Linked DNA regions of Homo sapiens: regions 1, 3, 4 and 5 are each linked to region 2. Evidence: fine-mapped expression QTL. A gene starts in region 2. Each other region holds a variant in brackets. All regions are shown on one strand. Distances are between the middles of the regions.

What was found.
Region 1: its variant is fine-mapped to the expression of NDRG3 in whole blood (TOPMed, PIP 0.98).
Region 3: its variant is fine-mapped to the expression of NDRG3 in whole blood (TOPMed, PIP above 0.99).
Region 4: its variant is fine-mapped to the expression of NDRG3 in stomach (GTEx, PIP 0.94).
Region 5: its variant is fine-mapped to the expression of NDRG3 in whole blood (INTERVAL, PIP above 0.99).

What each region holds. Positions count from the first base shown.
Region 1 is chr20:36,721,998-36,727,100 of GRCh38, reverse strand. The region is part of intron 1 of NDRG3 (NDRG family member 3); the gene reads left to right. Among named protein-coding and RNA genes, the nearest start is that of NDRG3, 22 kb to the left of the region's middle. The variant T/C (reference allele first, on the strand shown) is at 2,284.
Region 2 is chr20:36,743,285-36,748,387 of GRCh38, reverse strand. NDRG3 (NDRG family member 3) reads left to right here and starts at 2,298. Exons shown (of 16, transcript NM_032013.4): 1 at 2,298-2,343. RefSeq lists enhancers at 2,045-2,144, 1,869-2,835 and silencers at 2,255-2,454, 2,485-2,674.
Region 3 is chr20:36,783,579-36,788,681 of GRCh38, reverse strand. MTCL2 (microtubule crosslinking factor 2) reads left to right here. Exons shown (of 15, transcript NM_080627.4): 15 at 2,045-5,103. The coding sequence ends at 2,197. Among named protein-coding and RNA genes, the nearest start is that of DSN1, 12 kb to the right of the region's middle. The variant C/A (reference allele first, on the strand shown) is at 2,180.
Region 4 is chr20:36,813,804-36,818,906 of GRCh38, reverse strand. MTCL2 (microtubule crosslinking factor 2) reads left to right here. Exons shown (of 15, transcript NM_080627.4): 4 at 1,438-1,500; 5 at 2,600-3,781. Among named protein-coding and RNA genes, the nearest start is that of DSN1, 43 kb to the right of the region's middle. The variant T/C (reference allele first, on the strand shown) is at 2,182.
Region 5 is chr20:36,684,555-36,689,657 of GRCh38, reverse strand. It overlaps NDRG3 (NDRG family member 3), which reads left to right. Exons shown (of 16, transcript NM_032013.4): 4 at 874-979; 5 at 2,046-2,166. Among named protein-coding and RNA genes, the nearest start is that of SLA2, 41 kb to the right of the region's middle. The variant A/G (reference allele first, on the strand shown) is at 2,894.

The DNA.
Region 1 (5,103 bases), 21 kb after region 2:
ACTGAAAAATACAAAAATTAGCTGGGCATGGAGGCATGCGCCTATAGTCCCAGCTACTTGGGAGGCTGAGGCAGGAGAATCACTTGAACCTGGGAGGCGGAAGTTGCAGTGAGCCAAGATCGCCCCACTGTGCTCCAGCCTGGGCAACAGAGCAAGACTCTTGTCTCAGGAAAAAAAAAAAAAAAAGAAAGAAAGATATCTACCAGAGAGGATTGTTATGAGGATTAAACATAAGGTGCCGAGATTATAATTCCTGACAGAGTAGGTAGCCACCTTTTCTCCTTTCCCTTTCTAGCCATTTGGTATCAGATTCATTTCCTTAATTTGAAGATGGCTAGTTTTTCCTTATCAATCCTCCCTCCTACTCATATGACTAGGAAACAGGCAAAAATTATTGACTGCAATTTATAAAATCCCTACTTGCCTTTTGAAAATATTAATAGCTTTTAGTACCTGTATGGGATCTGGCAGCCATACCATTTGTACAGATGCCGGAACTGCAGGCCTTGGATCCCCAGGAGGGAGCCCGTCTGTGCAGCTGAGGGATCTGGAGATGGAGTTTTCCACCAGAATCTTAGTTTTCTTGTATATGTTATAAAACTGCTCATTGGCAAGGGCTTGAGACATTGAAAGCGGAGCAAAAATGGAGTCTCCAGAAGAATGCATTAGATCCCCTAATAGTGGAAGGTGAATGTCTACTGCCAAGTTGCCAAATCCTGAGTCACCCTGGAGCAGCTTACTGTCCTGCACAACATTGTCGCCTGAGCCTGCATTGGGCCTAGCTGATAGGGACAGCCTTCTCATTTAATTTGTGTCTTTGTTTAAGTGTTTGTTGGTGTAAAAATTGCATTTTTCTTCATCTTTAAAAAAATACTTAGGGATGGGTATGGTGGCTCACACCTGTAATCCCGCACTTTGGGAAGCCAAGGCAGGGGGATTGCTTGAGTCTAGGAGTTCAAGAGTAGTCTGGACAACATAGTGAAACTCCTGTCTCTAAAAAAAATGTTTTTTAAGTTAGCAAGGCATGGTGGCACATGCCCATTGTCTCAGCTGTGTGAGAGGCTGGGGTGGGAGGATTGCTTGAGGCTGGGAGGTTGAGAGCCATGATTGTGCCACTGCACTCCAGCCTAGGTGAAAGAGTAAGACCCCATCTCAAAAAAAAAAAAAAAAAAAAGGAACACTAGGTGAATGCCAGTCACTTTGGACTTGAGGGCACCTTAGGCCTCTCTCTGACCCTTTGACAGGCCCACCCATGTGGAGTCATATTTGAATAATTCCCATCTTGAAGTGCATTGCTTTCCAGTGAGTGAATTAAAGTAGGGATAAAGTGGGTGAGTTGAAAAAACAATTTCAGGAAATCACCATTTAAGTGGGAAAAAGAAAAACAAGTGGAAATAGGCTAAAATGGTTTTCTTTAGGTGGAAGGACAATGAGTAAATTATCTGTTCATTATTCTGTGATTTCTGTATTTTCTTTTTTTTCTTTTTTTTTTTTTTTTTTAGACGGAGTCTCATTCTGTCACCCAGGCTGGAGTGCAGTGGTGCGATCTCAGCTCACTGCAACTTCTGCCTCCCAGGCTCAAGCGATTCTCCTGCCTCAGCCTCCCGAGTAGCTGAGATTACAGAGCTTGCCACCACACCCAGCTAATTTTTGTATTGTTAGTAGAGACAGGGTTTCACCATGTTGTCCAGACTGGTCTCGAACCTCAGGTGATCCACCCACCTTGGCCTCCCAGCGTGCTGGGATTACAGGCGTGAGCCACCATTCCCGGCCAATTTCCATATTTTCTTCTTTTCTGTTTTTTGAGACAGGGTCTCACTCTGTCGCCCAGGCTGGAGTGCGGTGGCGCAATCTCAGCTTACTGCAACCTCCACCTCCAAGGATCAAGCAATTCTCCTGCCTCAGCCTCCTGAGTAGCTGGGATTACAGGCGTGCACCACCACACCTGTCTAATTTTTTTTATTTTTAGTAGAGATGGGGTTTCTCCATGTTGGCCAGGCTGGTCTTGAACACCTGACCTCAAATGATCCACCTGCCTCGGCCTCCCAAAGTGCTGGGATTACAGGCGTGAGCCACTGCGCCCGGCCGATTTTCATATTTTCTAAAGTGAGCACATATTGCTTTTATAAAAGGGAAAAAGCTGGTTTTGTTTTGTTTTGTTTTTAAATTTTTGAGACAGAGTCTTGTTCTGTTGCCCAGGCTGGAGTACAGTTGACAGATCTTGGCTCACTGCAACCTCCGCCTCCTGGGTTCAAATGATTCTCGTGCCTCAGCCTGCTGGAG[T/C]AGCTGGAATTACAGGCGTGTGCCACCACACCCAGCTAATCTTTGTACTTTTAGTAGAAATGGGGTTTCACCATGTTGACCAGGCTGGTCTCGAACTCCTGACCTCAGGTGATCCATCCATCTCCGCCTCCCAAAGTGCTGGGATTACAGGTGCGAGCCACCGGGCCCGGCCGGAAAACGCTTTTAAATTGCCATTTAAAATAACTGATAAATAGTAAAGTTCAAATAAAAAGTAGCCACAGTTTGTAGTGTTATTAATAAACAAACATGGAGTAGATTCCAGTTAGGCCAATATTTTAAGAGTTAAGTGGGGACTGTGAAAAAGAGAATGTAGATGCTGGCTGAAACTCACTGTTTAAGAGTCAAGCCACCTCACCCCCTTTTGAAATGTGACTGGTATAAAAACAAAAAAAGATTCAACTTCTGGGCATTAAGTAGCTCAATCAAGTATATGGGTGCCTGCGATCTGACAAAAGAACCACTGTCCTATAGGGAGGTTAAACATCATCAAATTTGTGGTCTCTAGGTGGTTCACACTTTTGGAATATTCACAGTTAGCATGTGGGGTTCATAGCCTGAGGAGTGTTCTCAATAGACATCCTCTGAGTCCCTTGAATAAATGATAAGAGGGCTTTTTTGTTAGTCTGTTCTAACATAGGCATAGCTGGGAGCAGGATTTATTTCAGTGTGTTGGCAAATAATAGCTAAAAGGTAGCCTGGAACACATACCCTCTCCATAGGTAATTAAATCAAAATCATGTCATTCTATCTCTAGAAGGTAAACAGAAAAGTGGATTAATATAGTACACTAGGCCGGGCGCAGTGGCTCACGCCTGTGATCCTAACACTTTGGGAGGCTGAGGTGTGTGGATCACTTGAAGGCAGGAGTTCAAGACCAGCCGGGCTAACATGGTGAAACCCTGTCTCTACTAAAAATACAAAAATTAGCTGGGCATGGTAGCAGGTGCCCATAGTCCCAGCTTCTCGGGAGACTGAGGCACGAGAATCGCTTGAGCCCAGGAGGCGGAGGTTCCAGTGAACCACGATTGTGCCACTGCACTCCAGCCTGGGTGACAGAGCAAGACTAGGTCTCAAAAAAAAAAAAACAAAAACACCAGACACACACACACACACACACACACACACACACACACACACTAGACTAATATCTTTTGAAGGCTTTCTTGATTTCCACCAATCAGACATAATTGCTTCTCCTTTGAATTCCTATGGCCCTTCTTTTTATTTATCAATTTGTAGATCAACATCATCTCTACTCTTTAGAGGCAGGGACCCTTTTTGTATCTTCCATAGTGCAATGGGTACTCAATAAATGGTTGTTAAATGTAAATCCCCAACTCTGAATTAACATTTTTCCTGACTTGATAGGTTTAGGGCCAAGACAAAAAGGATGATGCCTGAAGCTTTGAAGTCTAGGTGGGAATCACTTTCCTGCAATATTGAGTATTTGCAGCCTATCCCCATGGCTTCTTGCATGGTGAGATAGAAGAAGAATTTGTAGTTCATTACCCTGCCTACCTCTCTCCAACTTGTCTCCTCTCTCTGAGCTCCCCATTCTGCTCTCCCTATGTATTAGTTCTCTATTGCTATAGATCACTCTAAAACAAAATTATTATCTCTCATGGTTTCTGTGGGTCAGAAACTTGGGAGCAGGCTTGGTAGGGTGGTTCTGACTTAGAGTCTCTCATGTGGTTGCAGTCAGGTGTCCCTGGGGCTGTAGCTATCCGAACTCTTGACTGGGGCTGGAGGATTCATTTGCAAGGTAACTCACACACATGGCTAGCAGGTTGGTGCTGGCAAGTTGGTTCCTCTCCACATGGGCCTCGCCAGAGGGCTGTTTGAGTGTCCTGATGATTTGGCAGCTAGCTTCCCCTAGAACTAGTAGTTTATAGTGTCTTGAAGCACAAAGTGTAATGCGTTTTATGATGCAGCTTCAGAAGTCACATATTGTTGCTTCCTCCATATTCTATTAGTTACACGAGCCATCCCTGATTTATTTGGGTGGGCGATTATACATATGTGTGAATGAATATCAGGAGTCAGGGATCACTGGGCTCGTTGAAGGCCATCTTGGAGCTGACTACCATACCTTTCACCCACTGCTGTGATTCCCCAAATGAGGATTAGTAAGCTTAGCCTTGGTTCCCTCCTCTTTCATTCCCACTGCCATTCCTAATTCAAGTCCTCATCCTGCAGTAATAATCTTCAATTTTTGTCCCCGCTTAATCCGTCTTCCAGTCTGTTCCAAGCATAGTTTTGAGTATGTTGTTTCTTTATCCGTCTTCAGTAACTAAAACGTGTGCTCCATGAGAGCAAAGACTATTGTATTAATTGTATTAATCTGTTGCTGCATAAAAATATTACCGCAAATGTAGTAGCCTAAAACAACACATATTCATTGTCTCTCAGTTTCTGTGGTTCAGGAGTCTGGTGTGGGCTGTGTAGGTCCTCTGCAACATGGCGATCAAGGTGTCGGTCAGCTTCTTCTCTGACACTCAGCTGGGGAAGGATCTGCTTCCAGGCTCCTGTTGTTGGCAGCATTCAGTTCCTTGCAGATTGTTGAACTGAAGGTCTCAGTTTCTTGCTGTCTTTCTGCTGGAGGCTGCTCTCAGTTACTTGTTACGTGGCCCTCTCACAGCACATCAGCTTGCCTCTTCAGACCTAGCAGGGGAGAGTGTCCCTCAGCAAGACAGATGTGAAAATATTATATAATGTAATCATGCAAAGTCACTCATGTACATTCCATCACTTTTGCCGTATTCTAATGGTTAAAAGCAAGCCACAGGCCCTGCGCACACT
Region 2 (5,103 bases):
CTCATGCCTATAATCCCAGAACTTTGGGAGGCCTAGGCAGGAGGATTGCTTGAGTCCAAGAGTTCTAGACCAGCCTGAGCAACATGGTGAGACCCTCGTCTATATCTATCTCTATCTGTATCTCAAGAATCAGAGAAATGCTCTTAATTGCCTACTCTTTCATAAACAAAGTAGTACAATGGAGAGAGTTGGAGTGAATTTTCCTTTTTCTTTTTTTTTTTTGAGACGGAGTCTCGCTCTGTTGCCCAAGCTGGAGTGCAGCAGCGCAATCTCGGCTCACTGCAAGCTCTGCCTCCCGGGTTCACACCATTCTCCTGCCTCAGCCTCCCGAGTAGCTGGGATTACAGGCACCCGCCACTACGCCCAGCTAATTTTTGTATTTTTAGTAGAGACGGGGTTTCACCTTGTTAGCCAGGATGGTCTCGATTTCCTGACCTCATGATCTGCCCGCCTCAGCCTCCCAAAGTTCTGGGATTACAGGCGTGAGCCACTGCGCCCGGCCATGAATTTTCATTTTATCCTCAATTTCCTCATCTGTAAAATGGGGACAGATTATCTCTCTAAAGATGATTATACCCTCCCCCTTTTTATTTATTACATTGTATTGCATTTTTTGCTTATAAGGATTTCTTCAAACTCAAGAAGTATGTTTTGTGTCTTCAACAGTAAAATACGATAGAACAAAGAAAAATAATACTTACTGAGCTCTAAGCATTTTACATGCATATTATCATTCAGTCTTTGCCACAACCTTGTAACTTCTATTTCTGGGTGTGTGACATAGATGAGGAATTCGGGCATGGAGAGGTGTGGAGAGACTTAATTGTCTAACCAAGGACATAGGGATAAATAGTGGATGGTGAACTAGAACTAATTTGAATTCAGTAAATGTTAACGAACATAAACCATAAAATAAATGGCTGTGCTCAATTAATGTTAGTTTTCCTTCCAACTAAATTCAGTTCAAGAATTGTGCTTGATGAATAACAATATTATTGCTGCCCTCTGAGATGTTTGGTAATATTCATTTGTTCAGTTTGCCTTAATTAAAAGAATATGCTTTTAGTGGCCGGGCGTGGTGGCTCACACCTGTAATCCCAGCACTTTGGGACGCAGAAGCAGGCGGATTGCTTGAGGTCAGGAGTTTGAGACCAGCTTGGCCAACATGGTGAAACCCCATCTCTACTAAAAAAAAAAAAATACAAAAATTACCCAGGCATGGTGGCGCCCGCCTCTAGTCCCAGCTACTTGGGAGGCTGAGGGACTTGGGAACCTGAGCCGAGATGGCGACACTGGCTCGGGTTAAAAGGGCGTGGTGGCTCACACACCTGTAATCCCAGCACTTTGGGAGGCCGAGGCGGGCAGATGACGAGGTCAAGAGATCGAGACCATCCTGGCCAACACGGTGAAAACCCGTCTCTACTAATAATAGAAAAATTAGCCAGGCCCGGTGGCACACGCCTACAGTGCCAGCTACTCGGGAGGCTGAGGCAGGAGAATCGCTTGAACCCAGGAGGCAGAGGTTGCAGTGAGCCGAGATCGCGCTAGTGCACTCCAGCCTGGCGACAGAGTGAGACTCCGTCTCAAAAAACAAAACAAAACAAAACAAAAAAACTTTTAGTCAGTGGTACTTAATGGTAAAGAAATAATAGATAATAAATAGAGGAAGAGTGTGTCCTGTACATTTTGGTGTTAAATTGTTGGGTCATTAAGTTTAATATCTGCAATCATTCTGGGAAAAAAAATTCCATCTCTAATGTTGCATTCAAGAAAGTAGATGATTTGGCTGACGGTTGTAATAGGGGTGATACAATGGAGGACTGGTAATTCGGAGCCCTGAGTCTTGGACTCTAGTTCTTAAATTACTATGTTCATTCACCAAAAATTTACTAAGCTCTTTCCACGTGCCGAGCACTGTGCTAGGCGCCCTGTGACCTTGGGTATGGCTCTAGGTCACCTTAAAAGGAGGATGCCATACCCTGCAAGAGCTCTTAGGGGCTTCATAAGGATGCGACTCAGGGAACTGAGGGAAGCGCTCCAGACGCAGAGCTCAATGGCCCTGCCGCCCAGCGCCTCCAAAATCTGAGATTCTTCTCTGAGGAAACTCCGCAGCAAGAAAAACTACATCAAAGATGGCGCCGCCGGCCTCTCCTGGCTCAGCCACCATCTTCTCGGTAGTTCCCGAGGTGGACGGGCACAGCACTCATGCGCCGCCCTGGCGTCCTCGGCGCGCCTGCGCGGACCGCAGCACCTCCCCCGCCCCTCTCGCCGCCGCCGCCGCCGCCGCCGCCGCCGCCGCCGCCGCCGCTGCTGCTGCACTGACGGCGGGTGCCCGCGCCTCAGGTGAGTGAGCGCCTCCGCCCGGCCCGCGGGGGGCGCGCGGCGCCGCATTCGGGGGCGTCGCTCCTTTGCCCTGCTCCTTCCCCGCATCATCTCCGCGGCACGGCGAGGCCCTGGTGGCCCGTGCTGCTTGCCTCCCCCGTGCCCCCGGGGCCCTCTGCCCCGCCCCGCCCGCCCGCCGGACCCAGGTCAGCCCGGCTTTCCTCGGCCGCTCCCCGCGCCCAGCCCGCCGGCGACAGCGTGTGGGTAGCAAGAGAGCCTCCCTCCGGGCTCAACACCCTGGGTCACAGGGACGCCCCCCGCAGGCGCGAACCCTTCTCTCGCTCTGGCTCTGCAGGCGGCAGAGCTTGGTGGGCCTTGGGGTTGCTCATCCATCTACCTCGCCCGCTCCAAGAGCCCAGATGCTTGGAAGAGGGGCCGTGAGCAGCCCTTGCACCCGTCCGGCCCCAGAGCAGCAGAGGGCATCCTCTAACGGGACCCTACGACTACCCTACCGGGGAGAGGCTTCTTAGCCCCACTTAACAGCCGAGGAAACTGAGGCACGGAAAGGTGAAGTGCCATGCCCAAGGTCACGCAGCTGACAAGTGGCAGGGTCAGCTCTCAACTCAGGGTCTCGGGCTCTCAGGCCAGTGCGGTTGGAATTTGATCTCGTACCTTTGAAAAAATTTTGAAATCACTTGTCATCTCTGAAGTTGCTCTCGAACGTCGTAAAAGTAGGCTGCACAAAAAAGATTTTCTTGTTGTCGGAGTACAATTGAGGTGTTACTGTAATAATAATAGTGTTATTAATATAAGAGCTAACGTTCTTCCACCGCTCGCTGTGTGCCAGGGATCTTGCTAAGCATTTTATTAAGATAACCTCGCATAACCACCTCTGCACTTCCCAATCCAAATGCTTCCCCCTTCCTTGTCATGAAGCCCTTTTTTTCTTCCTGCAGAGCTGGCCTCCCTATCACAGGTAGACTAGGAGCCCCGTGGATTAGGAAGCAGGGAAGCTTTCCTTTGGTGGCTTACTGACAGAACAAGAGTGATCCTTGCCTGCTGGCATCCAGATCACCCCCGCCGCGCCCCCCCCCCCCCTTACCCTGGCCCTCAGGGGATATTATTAGCCTTCCTTTCCTGCCAAGAGAGCAGGACTGGGCTGACTGGGCTAGCTGGGCGGGCTGGACTTGGAGGTGACAGAGCAGATTTGGCTAGCACTCACCTCATTCCGGGGCTTTCTGTCCGAGGCTTTCTGCCTTTGCCCCAAGGTTGGGCTTGAACATTTCAGTATTTAAGATAAAGCAAGAAGAGAAAGAGAACATTGATAGAGTGGTGCTGAATTTAAGAAGCCTCCCATGATTTAAAGTTCCAAATGAACAGCTATAAAAATATGTGAATGTTTCTCCCCCAAAATAACTAGCTCAAACTGTCGTTTTTCTCCCTTAGCAAATCCTCCTCCACATTTCAAAGGCTCCACTAAATCACCACCTTCTCTGTGAAGCCTTCCCTGCTTGATTTTCCCAATTAGAATTACACGTTCACAAAACAGGGTCTTAGCCTCAGTCTTACCCTGCGGACTTCTAGCCCCTTGAGGGCATGGTCCATCTTTGCAGCTCCAGATGCCTGGCTCACAGTAGATCCTTGGTAAGGACTCAGTTAATTTCCACCCCCCCTTTTCATTACTCAAAGCGTGGTGTTCTTCTGGTGCCCTTCTGTTCCTCCTTCCTGCCCTTCAGTTTCTCTTTGCTTGTCTCTTCCTTCAGATTAAACTTGTCATCACCATTTACCACTCAAAGGCCTCCATCCACCCTGTTGTTTTTGAAAACTTGCAGATAAGAGTCTTGCATCAAAAAGCCTGTTTATGGACCGGGCGCTGCGGCTCACGCCTGTAATCCCAGCACTTTGGGAGGCCGAGGTGGGTGGATCACGAGTTCGGGAGATGGAGACCATCCTGGCTAATACGGGGAAACCCCGTCTGTACTAAAAAATAACAGAAAATTAGCCGCGTGTGGTGGTGGGCGCCTGTAGTCCCAGCTACTCGGGAGGCTGAGGCAGGAGAATGGCGTGAACCCGGGAGCTGGAGCTTGCAGTGAGCCGAGATCGCGCCACTGCACTCCAGCCTGGGCAACAGAGCTCCGTCTCAAAAAAAAAAAAAAAAAAAAAGCTTGTTTATGTTACTTGAACGTGCACTCACGATTGAGCTGCTTTTGTTTTTTGTTTGTTTTTTGTTTGTTTTTGTTTGTTTTTTGAGACGGAGTCTCGCTCTGTTGCCCAGGCTGGAGTACAGTGGCGCCATCTCGGCTCACTGCAAGCTCCGCCTCCCAGATTCACGCCATTCTCCTGCCTCAGCCTCCTGAGCAGCTGGGACTACAGGTGCTCGCCACCACCCCCAGCTAATTTTTTTTGTATTTTTTTAGTAGAGACAGGGTTTCACCGTGTTAGCCAGGATGGTCTCGATTTCCTGACCTCGTGATCCGCCTGCCTCGGCCTCCCATAGTGCTGGGATTACAGGCGTGAGCCACCAAGCCAGGCCGAGCTGCTTTTGTTTTATTATTATTATTATTATTTTTTGAGACGGAGTTTCGCTCTTGTTGCCCAGGCTGGAGTGCAGTGGCGCAATCTCGGCTCACTGCAACCTCCGCATCCTGGGTTCAAGCGATTTTCCTGCCTCAGCCACCCAAGTAGCTGGAATTACAGGCGCCCGCCACCATGCCCAGCTATTTTTTGTATTTTTAGTGGAGACGGATTTTCACCATGTTGGCCAAGCTGGTCTTGAATTCC
Region 3 (5,103 bases), 40 kb before region 2:
TCTATCACAGCACTTTTATTTTATTTATTTATTTATTTATTTTTGAGACGGAGTCTCGCTCTGTTGCCTAGGCTGGAGTGCAGTGGCACGATCTTGGCTCACTGCAAGCTCCGCCTCCCAGGTTCACGCCATTCTCCTGCCTCAGCCTCCTAAGTAGCTGGGACTACAGGCACCTGCCACCGCGCCCGGCTAATTTTTTGTATTTTTAGTAGAGACGGGGTTTCAGATGGTCTCGATCTCCTGACCTCGTGATCCACCCGCCTTGGCCTCCCAAAGTGCTGGGATTACAGGCATGAGCCACCGCGCCCGGGCCATTTTATTTATTTTTTAAAGAGATGGGGTCTTGCTCTATTGCTCAAGCCAGAGCCCAGTGACACAATCATAGCTCACTGCTGCCTTGACCTCCTGGGCTCAAAGGATCCTCCTGTCTCAGCCTCCCACATGGCCCAGCCCAGCAGCACTTTTTTTTTTTTTTTTTTTTGAGATGGAGTCTCACTCTGTCCCCCAGGCTGGAGTGCAGTGATGTGATCTCGGCTCACTGCAACCTCCGCCTCCTGAGTTCAAGCCGTTCTGCTGCTTCGGTCTCCCAAGTAGCTGGGACTGCAGGAATGTGCCACCATGCCCGGGTAATTTTTGTATTTTGAGTAGAGATGGGGTTTCACCATGTTGGCCAGCCTGGTCTTGAACTCCTGACCTCAGGTGATCCACCTGCCATAGCCTCCCAAAGTGCTGGCATTACAGGTGTGAGCCACCATGGCCAGCTGTCCAGCAGCACTTTTTTTTTTTTTTTTTTTTTCAGATGGAGTCTTGCTCTTTCACCCAGGCTGGAGTGCAGTGGCACAATCTCAGCTCACTGCAACCTCCGCACCCTGGGTTTAAGCGATTCTCCTGCCCTAGCCTCCCGAGTAGCTGGGACTACAGGCGCATGCCACCATGCCCAGCTAATTTTTGTATTTTTAGTAGAGATGGGGTTTCACCATGTTGGCCAGGATGGTCTCGATCTCCTGACCTCGTGATCCACCTGCCTCAGCCTCCCAAAGTGCTAGGATTACAGGCATGAGCCACCGTGCCTGGCAGCAGCACTTTTGATCATTATTTCTGTTTATTGGTAATAGTAAAAAATTAGAAACTACCCAGATGTACATAAAAAGTGAATTGGGGCCAGGCACAGTGGCTCACACCTGCAATCCCACCACTTTGGAAGGCCGAGGCGGGCAGATCACTAGAGGTCAGGAGTTTGAGCCTGACCAACATGCTAAAATCCCCTCTCTACTAAAAATACAAAAATTAGCTAGGCATGGTGGCACACGCTTGTAATCTTAGCTACTTGGGAGGCTGAGGCACAAGAATCACTTGAATCCGTGAGGTGGAGGTTGTAGTGAGTCAAGATCGTACCACTGCACTCCAGCCTGGGGAACAGAGCAAGATTCTGTCTAAAAAATAAAAAAATAAAAAAAGCGAATTGGGTATATAAATCAGTTATTTCTATCTAGTGAAATGGTACAGAGACACTAAAAAAGAAGGCGATCAGCCAGGCATGGTGGCTCATGCCTTTGGGAGGCATGAGCACCCAAAGGTGCTAATTCCAGCAGTTTGGGAGGCTGAGGCAGGAGGATCGCTTGAGCCCAGGAGTTCAAGACCAGCCTGAGCAACATAGTGAGACCCTGTCTCAAACGAAAAAAAAGGATAAAAAGGAAGGAGATCTAGACATACCTAGTGACAGAAAAGTGTTCGTGTTTTACAGTTGCAAAATAAGCTGTCATTTTGGTAAATGTATGTTAAGAATCTCTTTGGCGTGCAGGACCATGGACAGTGTCCACTGTCCTCTCTGTATAGCCTAGAATATATTACAATGAACTTCCATTACCGCTCTAATGGGAGAAGAACAACAGAAAGAAAAAATTGGTCCAGTGAGGAGCTTCAGCCCCTGGGAACTGGTTTATGGCCGAGTCTCAGTTCCTTGCCTGGCATACCACACAGCTCATGGTGGTCCATGTCTCCTGGCTCCTCTTGACTTCCTGCCTCCCTGCCTCCCTCTTCCTAGGACGCTGTTTGTGACTGTAGTACCCAGTCTCTCACCTCCTGCTTCGCCCGATCGTCCCGCTCTGCCATCCGCCACTCTCCTTCCAAGTGCAGGCTGCACCCTTCAGAGTCCAGCTGGGGTGGGGAGGAGAGGGCA[C/A]TCCCCCCCAGCGAGTGACAGAGCAGCCAAGCTCCCCGCCTCAACCAGCCCAGCCCCTGGATAGCAGAAGGGAACCAGCAGAGACGAGACGAGGTGAGGCGAGGGGCTGTGTCCTCAGCATTGCCTGGCCCTGGAGGGACAGCAGTGATGCCACTGCCAGAATGCAGCTTTCACATCAAGGTAAAGCCGGGTCTCCTGCTGGCCCCTGGGTGGTGAGCTTCGACTTCCCAGGGGAAGGCAGTGAGTGGGAGAGAGACCAAACCTGGGCTTCCCAAGCATCCACTGAGAGATCTGTCAAGAGCCGATCCCTGGGTCCTAAGAGAGAGCCTTGCCTGGTTCTGCCCATGCCACCCTCTTGGAAGAGCCCAAGAAGGATACATGTCTGGCCATGCCTTTGGGGAAAAGGAGTCGGAGAGATGTTTCCTGCTGACCATCCACCCCTTCATTTGGGAGGAGACACTGCTGAGAAGAACAGGCTTTGCTCTAGGGCTCCATGTTTGGTTCCTGGTGGAGCCCTGTTGGGCATCATCACCATCACCTCCTTCTCTCCACCACCTCCTCCTCCCAGCCCCACTGCTCTAGATTGCTGGGACACTAGGGAGTATGATAGGGCAGTAGCCAGGGCCATTGCTTAGTGTCCTGGAGCCCTGGATCTCCCTGCCCATAGCCTGGATGCAGCAAGAGCTGGGAGGCGAAGTGGAAACATGCAGGGCTCAGGGTTGGGGAGTGATTGCAATTGCCTTCCTTGCCAAAGTGACTTGGGGCCCCAACGTTCCCAGCAGACCCCTTGAGGACAGAAATAGGTAGAGTCAGTCTCAAGACCTGGTGCATAGATAAATGCCTAAATACACTGCCTTGATCTCAAGTGATCTCAGAGGCCTCTTTCCCTGGCACCCTGAGAGGCAGCAGGCACTACATCTCCACTGTGTTTACATCCTGCAGCTGGTCGGGGGGCAAAGATATTCCCAGTAAGAGATTCTTGGTTGGCCAGGTCAGGCCCAGGAGAACACCAAGAGGCCAGAGCCCAGGACACAGCAGTAGACTGGGGCCTGGAAACACGTATCTTGCCTAGATTGTTTATTTGAATTTTTCCTACTATAAATATTTAAGGTGGTTTACTTTATTTTAATAATTTAATTTACCCCAAAGTCCCTAAGGTAATTTATTGGAGGTTGAAACATGCATTCTTGCCACTGGGACAACATGAGGCCTCTAACAGCACGGGCAGGCATGGGGTCCCCTGGGTGGACGAGGCCGCTTGGCAGCCAGGTTTGGAGACCTGGCCTCCTGGTCAGCTTTGGAGGGCCCCTCAACAGAGCTGGAGCCCTGCACCCCAACACGGCTGGCCATGTGGCCTCAGAACACTACTTATTACTCAATGCCTGGTACTTGGCCAGCCCCAGCGGTCAGTCTATAAATACTCACTGACAAGGTGGAGGGCTGGACGGCCATCACCACTCCCCAGACGTTCTCCATTGCCTGTCTCATTTCCCTCCCTCCCTCTGACACCTTTCTTCATGAGTCGAACGTGGATTACTAAAGCTCTATTAAGAGTGTGGAGATCCCTCCAAGTTTCCCAAATGAGAACTCACAGGAAAACAGGACTGAACTTTGAGAATGTTGTTTATCGCAGCTTTGCACATAAACCTGAGTGTCTCCCAGCCTGCCTCGGTTCTCACCAGCCTGCCAGCCTTTTCACCAGCCTCTCTCCTTAGCCTTATGGCCTTTCACGGCTCTTCTCCCTGCCCCAGCTCTGCTGCCCGCCCTTCCTCACGTCCCCTGTGAGCTGCCTGAGCCATTGGTTGGATTTCGATGTGGCTCATTGCAGCATGTGGGGCAGCGCCTCCCATGGCCTCGCCTTGGTGCCGGTGAACCCCTTTTGGTTGCACACATGCTCCCCACACACACATAGACATCAGCCTTCCTGTAACTGACTGGGGACCCAGAGTGGAAACACCAGGATGGATCAGCTTGTCTGCAGAATTGCCCATCAGGAAGACCAAAAGCCAGTAGCTTTGCTGATCTGCCCCCAGGACTCTGGAGGCGCCCCTGCACTCCCACCTCCCACCTGCCAGTTCCCAGACCCACCCATTCGGGATCACCTGGACCAGTTACCCCAAGTCCTGCATCTCCCTTCCCTGCAGGCTGAACACCAGGGTCATGCCAGTCCCGCCAGCCGCCTCCTCCATGCCCCAGTGACTGGTGTGGGCAGAGCAGGCAGCCAGTGGAGCTGTGGGCCAGTTCCGCTCTTGGATGCTGCTGCTCTCACCCATGAGGTCAGGGGGGCCCTCCAAGGTTATCTCCAGGTGAGGGGATTCACATCAGGCCACAAGCCACCAGAGGCCTTCTGCCACCTCCCAGAGCGACAGCCAGGGAGGCTGCGTACTCAGCCTCGGGGAGAAATCCCCGTGGGACCTGAGCCCCAAGACCTACGGACCACTCAGCCTTACCATCGTACCGTCCAGGATTGTCCTTGCCATCTTTGTTGTCTCAGCCAGACCTTGGTTTTCAGTAAAGCCCCAGTTTCTACTTCCTGCATGCCACTGTGCAAGGCCACTCATCACTGTTCCTGCAGAAGCCTCTGGACGTGGGGCTGGATGGGGTTGAAAATGTTACATGTAAATATTGGTTTGGTTCGGTTTTTAGCATTTTACTTGGTAACTGGTTGTTTTCTTTTTTGGGGTGGGGGGATTGGTTTGTAAAAATTCTCTACTCTTTTGGAATGTGATTTCTAAGTTTGTTGGTTTCTTCAAATGCCTTTTAAGTCTTGGTAACATTCCCAAAGCAGAAAACTGCCTGACCCACAGTGGGGATTCCCTGGAGAATTGGGGTCCCAAGAAGGAATGCTGCCCTTCTCGAACCCGTTCTCCCCCTTCCTCCTGCCTCTCTGCCTTTTACTGCTATTCCCTTCTTCTCCTCCTTTA
Region 4 (5,103 bases), 71 kb before region 2:
TGCCTTTCTTTTCCTGTGAACTGTTTTTCATATCTCTAGCCTATTTTCCTACAGGTCTGCTGGCCTTTTAATGCTCTGTTTGTGAAACTCTTTCCATATTTAGGATATCAACCCTTTGTTGGTGTTGTACATTGCAGATATTTTTTCAGAGTTTGTCATTTATGTTTTTACTTTTCTTAAGGTGTTTTTATTTCCATGCAGAATTTGCTTGTATAATCAAATGTATCTATTTTTTCCCCTATTGCTTCTGGATTTTAAACATCTTATTTTTTTGAGGTGGAGTCTTGCTATGTTGCCTAGGCTAGTCTCAAACTCCTCAATGCAAGCAATCCTCTCACCTCAGCCTCCCAAAGTACTGGGATTACAGGCATGAGCCACTATGCCAGACCAGCTTCTGGATTTTTGAATCACTGTTTGCCATCAGTCTCTTATGACCATTTCTAAGCCTCATGTGTAATTACGATTTGTTATATTCATTTTATTGTTGTTGTTTGTTCTTTGAGACAGGGTCTTGCTATGTTGGCCAGGCTGGTCTCAAACTCTTGGCCTCAGGCAATCCTCCTGTCTTGGCCTCCCAAAGTGTTGGGATTACAGGCATGAACTACCACATCCAGCCTCCATATTCATTTTATCCATTAGTATTCATTCTGAATTACAGTTCCCACTAGATGTCAGTTTCATGAAGACAGGATTTTCTCTGAGATGGAGATTTGCATGCAGAGGTTTATGGAAGAGTCTCCTTGGGAACAACACCACAGGGAGTGAGGCAGAGCTGGAAGCTGAATTACACCAGTGATCTCAGGCGATCCCATGGGGAGCTCTGGAGCTAGGATGGCCCTCCCTGTAGAGCTGAGGCAAGGGGTCATGGACCCATCCCTGGATGTGGGCTCCATCCACGGATAGCACCTGCCCTTGGACAAGGTGGTTCTCCTCAACCAATGGCTGTCGCTGGGAGAGGTACTCAGCTTTGAGGTCTCAGCTCTGGGAATGAGTGTCTCAGTTCCGAAGGGGAATCTGGGCAAAGCACCACAACATCCTCCCTGGTTCACTGCTGTGTTCTCTACACCTACCTACCTGGCGCTTGATAGGTGCTCAGGAAATCCTTTGATGAAAGACAAATGAGAACAGAAACACAGCTTTCCAAGTCTTCGCCGAGGCCAACTGGGTCACACATGGGAGCAGGCTGGAGGGGAGGAGCCCTGAGCAGGTGTTTTTAGAATCATCTTCTCCAATGCTTCTGGCCTATCTCCCATTGCTGCTCACTGGGTGATCTGGAGGGCTCCTCTTACTCAACAGTCAGTGCCATCAGGGTGGGGTGGCCTGGGGACTGGGGCCCTCCCTGGACCCTGGGCACTGTGACAGCTCTCTGCATGTGCATCATTCTGTGAGCTTTCAGTCCTGACTTTTTTTTTTTTTTTTAATTAAATCTCACTTCAGCATTCCTTGAAGAAAAGAGGAACCCGCTCCCTGGGGAAGGCCGATAAGAAGACTTTGGTGCAGGTAATTCCCAGCAGCCCCCGTAGGAAGGTTTTATTCTGAAGACCTGAGCCTGACTCTAAGTGGCCTGGGGATCCCAGATTCTGCCCTGTCCTCCCCTTGCTCATTTTCCTTTTTTTCTTTTCTTTTTTTTTTTTTTTTTTGAGACGGAGTCACACTCTCTTGCCCAGGCTGCAGTGCAGTGGCACAATCTCAGCTCACTGCAACCTCTACCTCCCAGGTTCAAGCAATTTTCATGCCTCAGCCTCCCGAGTAGCTGGGACTACAGGCGTGCACCACCACACCTGGCTAATTTTTGTATTTTTAGTAGAGACAGGGTTTCACCGTGTTGACCAGGCTGGTCTTGAACTCCTGGCCTCAAGCAATCCACCTGCCTCGGCCTCCCAAAGTTCTGGGATTACAGGTGTGAGCCACTGCGCCCGGCCCCCTTGCTCATTTTCTTAGTTTCACTGCCCACTTTATTTCCCAAAACCACATCCTGAGCCCATGGTTCTTAGATGCTTAGATGCTCGCTCCCCACCCCAGCCAGGAACTTAGCAAGCAGCACTACAGTCAAATCCAAAGGTCTAGAGTTGGAGACCCAGGCTTGAATCTTGGCTCTGCCACTTGACTGCCATGTGATTGGAGCGAGTCATTTTGAGTTTCTGGGCTCCATTTCCTATCTATCCCTGTCTTGGGGGTTCA[T/C]TGGAAGAATTGGATGAAGTACTATATGCAGCAAAGGCCACATACCGTTAGCTCCTAGTGGTATGGGATTGTCAGAGTGCCAGGCCCTTTTCATCCTTAGCTCATTTAATCCCGTCTGTGGCTCTGGGAGGGAGGTAATGTTACCGCCCCATTTTACTGATGAAACTGTAGTGGCAGCAGTTGCTCATCAGTATGTCACCTGTTCCTGTACTCCCAGGCTATGTGTGGCGCCCCATCCTTGCTGTCATTTCAACATCTACCCCTCTGCGTCTCCCCCGGACCCTTAGCTCCTTGAGGGTCTGGCTGTGTCTGATTCATCCCTGTGTTCCCAGCACATAGTGCTCCCCAAAATGCCATGGCTGGTACTGAGACTCCCAGCACTAACCTTCCTGGGTTGTGTCTGTCTCTGTGGTCCCAGGAGGACAGTGCAGACCTGAAGTGCCAGTTGCACTTTGCAAAGGAGGAGTCAGCCCTCATGTGCAAGAAGCTCACTAAGCTTGCCAAGGAGAATGACAGCATGAAGGAGGAGCTGCTGAAGTACCGCTCGCTCTATGGGGACCTGGACAGCGCGCTGTCAGCCGAGGAGCTGGCCGATGCCCCCCACTCGCGGGAGACCGAGCTGAAGGTGCACCTGAAGCTGGTGGAGGAGGAAGCCAACCTGCTGAGCCGCCGCATCGTGGAGCTGGAGGTGGAGAACCGAGGCCTGCGGGCTGAGATGGACGACATGAAGGATCATGGAGGTGGCTGTGGGGGTCCTGAGGCACGCCTGGCCTTCTCCGCGCTGGGTGGCGGAGAGTGCGGGGAGAGCTTGGCAGAGCTGCGGCGACACCTGCAGTTTGTCGAAGAGGAGGCCGAGCTGCTGCGGCGCTCCTCTGCCGAGCTCGAGGACCAGAACAAGCTGCTGCTGAACGAGCTGGCCAAGTTCCGCTCGGAGCACGAGCTGGACGTGGCGCTGTCGGAGGACAGTTGTTCTGTGCTCAGCGAACCTTCACAGGAGGAGCTGGCGGCCGCCAAGCTGCAGATCGGCGAGCTCAGCGGCAAGGTCAAGAAGCTGCAGTACGAGAACCGCGTGCTCCTCTCCAACCTCCAGCGCTGTGACCTCGCCTCCTGCCAGAGTACGCGGCCCATGCTGGAGACGGACGCCGAGGCCGGGGACTCTGCCCAGTGTGTGCCTGCTCCCCTGGGCGAGACACACGAGTCCCATGCGGTCCGACTCTGCAGAGCCAGGGAGGCCGAGGTGCTGCCTGGGCTGAGAGAGCAGGCCGCCCTGGTCAGTAAGGCCATCGATGTCCTGGTGGCTGATGCCAATGGCTTCACGGCTGGCCTCCGGCTGTGTCTGGACAACGAGTGTGCTGACTTCCGGCTGCATGAGGCCCCCGACAACAGCGAGGGCCCCAGGGACACCAAGCTCATCCATGCCATCCTGGTGCGCCTGAGCGTGCTGCAGCAGGAGCTGAATGCCTTCACGCGGAAGGCAGATGCAGTCCTCGGGTGCTCTGTCAAGGAACAGCAGGAGTCCTTCTCATCACTGCCCCCCTTGGGCTCCCAGGGGCTCTCTAAGGAGATTCTTCTGGCAAAAGACCTTGGCTCAGACTTTCAGGTAAGGTGCCTCATGCACAGATCCTATTATTTATTTTTTTCCTTTGTTTTGTTTTGTTTTTCTTGAGATAGGGTCTCTCCCCGCTGGCCAGGCTGAAGTGCAGTGGTGCAATCTCAGTTCACTGCAGCCTCGATATCCTGGGCTCTAGCCATTCTCCCCCCCTCACTCTCCTGAGTACCTGGGACTACAAGTGAGCACCACCACACCCAGCTAATTTTTATTTATTTTTTATTTTTTTTGAGACGGAGTCTCGCTCTGTCACCCAGGCTGGAATGCAGTGGCGCAATCTCGGCTCACTGTAACCTCCAACTCCCAGGTTCAAGCGATTCTCCTCTCTTAGCCTCCCAAGTAGCCAGGATTACAGGCGCCCTCCATCATGCCTGGCTAATTTTTGTATTTTTAGTAGAGATGGGGTTTCACCATGTTGGCCAGGCTGGTCTCGAACTCCTGACTTCAAGTGATCCGACCGCCTTTGTCTCCCAAAGTTCTGGGATTACAGGTGTGAGCCACTGTGCCTGGCCATAATTTTTAAATTTTTTTGTAGAGATGGAATCTTGCCATATTGCCCAGGCTGGTCTTGAACTCCTGAGCTTAAGTGATCCACCAGCCTCAGCCTCCCAAAGTGCTAGGACTATAGGTGTGAGCCACTGTGTGTGGCCTAATAGTCACATTTTAAATGTTCAGTATTTGTGTGTGTCTAGTAGAGTGGATCTAGAATATTTCATCCTTGCAGCTTGTCCTTCTAAATCCTTCTCTACACATCTATCATATATTTGTTTTTCCACCCAGATTGCTTTATATCTATTGTTACTACACAACTTATATTTTTAACGCAATGTATCAGTTTGTTAATTTATGATGCCTTGTCTGTTGTTCACACAGTTTTTGTGCTCACTGCTGAAGATGTCATGATTAGCAAAAACAGATATGATTCCCCCTCTCATGGTCCTTATCATCTAGTGGGGCAGAGTCACCCAAAATATCATGTCAGTGAATGTGCAATTAGACACTGAGAGAGGAATCTGAAGGAAGCGTACATGGTTTTATGAACAAGGAACTTGACCTAGACCCTATGCTGAGGGAAGGCCTCTGATCTGACCAGAGGTCAGAGGGATGGATGGCTGGGGGAACACAGTGTTTTCAGCAGAGCAAATAGCCTGTGCAAAGACACAGCTCAGATCAGAGGCGGAAGGAGCGTGGTGTGTCCAGGACACTGAGTGAAGAGACAATGTGAAGCTGGACTGCACTGAGCATGCGGGAGGTTTGATCTTCATCCTCAGAGCAATGGCAGGGAATTTTTCATTTCCAGGGAAAGAGAGCGA
Region 5 (5,103 bases), 59 kb after region 2:
GTAAGCTATGGCCGTAAGTTTATGTTCCACAAACATGGTAGCCAAGATCCACCCCTGTAACGTGTGGATGACACAGAAGGACAGCTCCCAGGAAAGAAGGGATCCTAGGCAGATACACCCATAGGTGTCTGGTGAAATTATCTACTGAAATTAATTATAAATTATCTGAACATGTGTTCAGAAGCTCCAAAACCTCTGATTTTTTACCCAGCAACTTCTTCATATCTTCCATTTCCTTTTTTCCCCACAAGTCTTACCTGGCTCCTTACCCAATTTGCTGATTTCCTTTCCATAGCCAATTGCAAATGTATTCTCAACAGATCCCTGGGCTCGTAAGTGAGCTTTGGAGATAACAAGGTGTGTTTTGCTCCCTATTTATTTTTCTGGAAGAATTGGAAAGTAGGAATATTATGTATACTCTAGCATCTCTCTGGTATGCATTTATTTTATTTTATTTTATTTTTTGAGACGAAGTCTTGCTCTGTCACCAGGCTAGAATGCAGTAGCACGATCTCAGCTCACTGTAATCTCTGCCTCCCAGGTTCAAGTGATTCTCCAGCCTTAGCCTCCTGAGTAGCTGGGATTATGTGCGTGTGCCACCATGCCTGGCTGATTTTTTATTTTTAGTAAAGACAGGGTTTCATCATGTTGGCCAGGCTGATCCTCAAAGTCCTGACCTCAAGTGATCCGACCACCTAGGCCTCCCAAAGTGCTGGGATTACAGGCGTGAACCACCACGCCCAGCCACATGTAATTTATTAATGTGTCCTGCCCCAGCTCGTGGGAAACGGTGGTAAAGCAGGTATTGTGAAACTTTGGCAACCTGGGAAGTTCATTCTGCTTTTTCTGAGAACTTACATTCTCTTGTTACAGGAACATGATATAGAAACAACTCATGGTGTGGTCCACGTCACTATAAGAGGCTTACCCAAAGGAAACAGACCAGTTATACTAACATATCATGACATTGGCCTCAACCGTATGTATTTTATTTTACACCTTCCCTTCTTATCATACTTGATCTTTGTATGTTAAAAACCAAACAACAACAATATTCTAATAGAGCAGAGGTTTCCCCCTCTCTGTGGTAACTTTCCCTCCTTGTTCCTACATTCGTTAATGGTATAAAGTTCCTGGGAAGTGTGCAGGGGAATGTATTCTGGGGATACTGGAATCACATCTCGCCTTCATGTCTGCTAAAGGATTGCAGATTATACAATGCACTGCTAAGAAAGTAGAACTGAAATCCATGTTTTCAAGCCTGTACTCTGTTTTTTTTTTTTAAATATGTTTCAGGTTAGAAAATTCAGAGTTGGAACTTAACTTTGTTGTGAGCTCTTCAATGAATTAGTAAGAATTCTTGCTAGAGCCTGTCACCAGTGACTTTAAGTGGACTTTTCTAGATGGTAGTGTAAGATTCTGGCCCCAGCCATAGACACACAGAGTCTGCATACATGTGTTTTCTTTCATGCTGCTCTGGCTTTCATAGATGCCCTGCATTTGAGGCCACAGTTGAGTGTTAAAGCTTTTGTAGCTGCCTTGGCATGAGAAGTGATTTAAGCAGGTATACAAAGAGGGTAGAAGTGGAAGCAGCAGCCCCTCCCTTCACTCTGGCAATTTTGCCAAGAGACAAACTCCCGTGTGGTGAATGTGAACAGCTCAGGACATTCACGCCACCTGTGCTCTTGGGGTATAATCAGTGTCTGTTTGTGAGATAGAGGAATAATGTCCATGAGAAATGACAGCATTATGGGTGTAAGATTATTTTGTGCAATAATCGGAAACCACCAAATATTAACAAAGTAATTTCTACTTTGCAGACATTATTTAGAATTAAGAATTGTTTTCAATATGTATCTCAATATGAGATGTCTTATATTCAGCCTTTAGGGCAGCTTGAATCAGACAGATTGTTCAGACACCTCACTTTGGTGGAATGGTGGTTAAAAAGCAGGGAAAGAAGGTGATAATAGGCATTGACTGAGTAGAGGAAAATTGGGGCGATATGGAGAGCCTGTGACTTATGGGTATTTTTATTCTTATAGATAAATCCTGTTTCAATGCATTCTTTAACTTTGAGGATATGCAAGAGATCACCCAGCACTTTGCTGTCTGTCATGTGGATGCCCCAGGCCAGCAGGAAGGTGCACCCTCTTTCCCAACAGGGTAAGGCCACGAAAAGATCATCTGGGAGACGTGCACTCAGTAGAGCAACTGGCTGAGCTCCAGTGGGAGAAGTGGTGTGTGCTTCCCTTTGATTTTATTACCGTCTATAGGTTATGCTTATTGACCAACCATCCTCATATTTTCTCTCCTTGGGCTGAGAGGACTGTTATGTACAGTTTTTTGGGGGAAACTGTGTGTTTTCCCATATCCAGGAATGGCTCTCCATAGCAGGTGCCTGCTTTCCTGTAATCTCAAGGCATAAGTGTCTGGAACATCTACTCCTCACTGTCTTTATCTTTCCCTTCCTTATCTGTTTGAAAGCTGTCATTTTTTAGCGAGACGTGGTGACTCACACCTATAATCCTAGCACTTTGGGAGGCAAAGGCAGTAGGATTGCTTGAGCCCCGGGGTTCAAGACCAGCCTGGATAACATAGGAATACCTTGTCTCTACAAAAAATTGAAAAATTAGCCAGCCAGGCATGGTGGTGTTCACCTGTGGTCGTGTCTGCTTGGGAGGCTGTTGTGGGAGGATCACTTGAGCCCAGGGGATTGAGGCTGCAGTGCCTGGATGACTGAGCAAGACCCTGTCCCCAGAAAGAAAACAAACAAACAAAAAAACCTGTCATTTTTGTGTCCTTCCTCAAAACTCCCAACTACTTAGGCCCAAATTCAGATCTCTCTGAGCTTTCCTGGGAGCATCTCCCCATCCTTAGCTCTCAAACTAGT[A/G]ATGGAAATTTGACTATCTGTGTAACTGTTTATTCTGAGAGGCTGTCCTGGCAGATAGAGGTGTGGGGTGATTGATTGGCTTTGGCACTCTCAGCTTCCTCCTACATCTGCTTCGCAGGGCAGAGTCATAGGCTCCCTACCTGTTTGTTCCCTGGACGGGTGCTTATTGAGAAGACCTTAGGAGGAGTGAGCACACACTCTGTGGAATGCTAATTCTTCCCCTATCCTTTCACTCATCTCCAGAGCTGCCTTTGGCCAGTGACTGCTGGGAAATAGACAATTGCAGACAAATAATAGCTAATATTTAAATAGTACTCAAACCGTGTTCCAGACCCTGCTTTAAATGCTTTACATTTGTTAACTCATTTACTCCTCACAACCCTATGGGATAAGTTTACTATTATTCCCATTTTATAAGTGAGGAAACTGAGGCCCAGAAAAATTAAGTAACATGGCTAACATTACATAACAAATAAGTGGCAGAGCTAAGATTTGAACCCAGACAGTCTGGTGCCAGAATCTGACTCTAAAATGCAAATTGGCCAGTGGTCAGTTTATATCCAACAAGATTTGTATCCAGTTCCTTTTTTCTATTTTGTGGACAAATGGTTCCACAGCACACCATCCCCTTAAGTGTTCAGGCAGAGGCAGGCTGACTTCCCTGTCAGATGTAGAACAGATCCTGCCTCATATATAAGTGGTCATCTTAGGATCAATTCCATCTCCAATTCTGTAATACTTTTTCTTTCTTTCTTGAGATAGGATAGTGCTTTGTTTCCCAGGCTGGAGTACAGTGGCGTGATCATGGCTTACTGCAGCCTCAACCTCCTGGGCTCAAGTGATCCTCCCATCTCAGCCTCCCTACTAGCTGGGACTACAAGTGTGTGCCAACACGCCTGGCTAATTATTGTTATTTTCTGTAGAGACAGGGTTTTGCCCTGTTGCTCAGGCTGGTCTCGAACTCCTGGGCTTGAGCAATCTGGTTGCCTCAGCCTCTGAAAGTGTTGGGATTACAGGCGTGAGCCAACGCTCCCAGTCGGATGCTTACTACTTTTCTAGGAATTCTGATCTGGGTCTGTTCCTGGGCCTGCTCGAACATCTTAGGATCAGATGGTTCATATTATGAACCAAATTCAAATACAATAAAATAACCATGCCAGACACAGTGGCTCACACCTGTAGTTCTAGCACTTTGTTAGGCTGAGGTAGGAGGATCACCTGAGGCCAGGAATTCAAGACCAGCCCTGGCAACATAGCGAGACTCCATCTCTACAAAAAATTGAAAAATTAGCCAGGCATGGTGGCATGCGCCTGTAGTCCCAGCTACTCAGAAGCCTGAGGCAGGAGGATAGCTTGAGCCCAGGAGTTCAAGGTTACAGTGAGCTATGATTTCACTACTGCACTCCAGCCTGGGTGACAGAGTGAGACCATGTCTCTTAAAAAATTAATAATAATAATAATAATAATAATAAAATTTTAAAAATAACTATGTTATTCTATGCCTAAGTGAAACAAATAAGCATTCATGCTAAGGGTTTGTAACTGTGTGCCCATACCTAGAAAAGCTTTATTTTTGCATTTAGTTGCCTAAATATAGCAGTAGACCAAGACCCCCTTTCTGAGTTGACTCTTACTGCCGGAGGTTTACTGAGCCTGGACTCCAACTGAAGAGATTGTTAGAGGTTTGGAAATACCCTAAGAGAGAACCATGTTACTAGTTCTTTTCATGTGGCACCCTCTGGTCCCAAGGGCTGCTTGTTAGGATATAGAAACCGTGGATTATTTTACTTTCTCCTTAGCATGGCAGTTGTAGAGAGTTACACAATATGCCACAATCATTTTCAGGGTACCACATCACCTCCTTTGAGCCTTTGGTAAAAGGAAATGCTTTTATCTAAGATTTTTTTTTTTTTTTGAGGCGGAGTTTTGCTCTTGTTGCCCAGGCTGGAGTGCAATGGCATGATCTCCGCTCACGGCAGCCTCCGCCTCTCAGGTTCAAGCAATTCTCCTGCCTCAGCCTCCCAAGTTTCTGGGATTACAGGCATGTGCTACCACACCCAGCTAATTTTGTATTTTTAGTAGAGATGAGGTTTCTCCATGTTGGTCAGGCTGGTCTCGAACTCCCAACCTCAGGTGATCTGCCCACCTCGGTGTCCCAAAGTGCTGGGATTATAGGCATGAGCTACTGCGCTCAGCCTTTTATCTAAGAC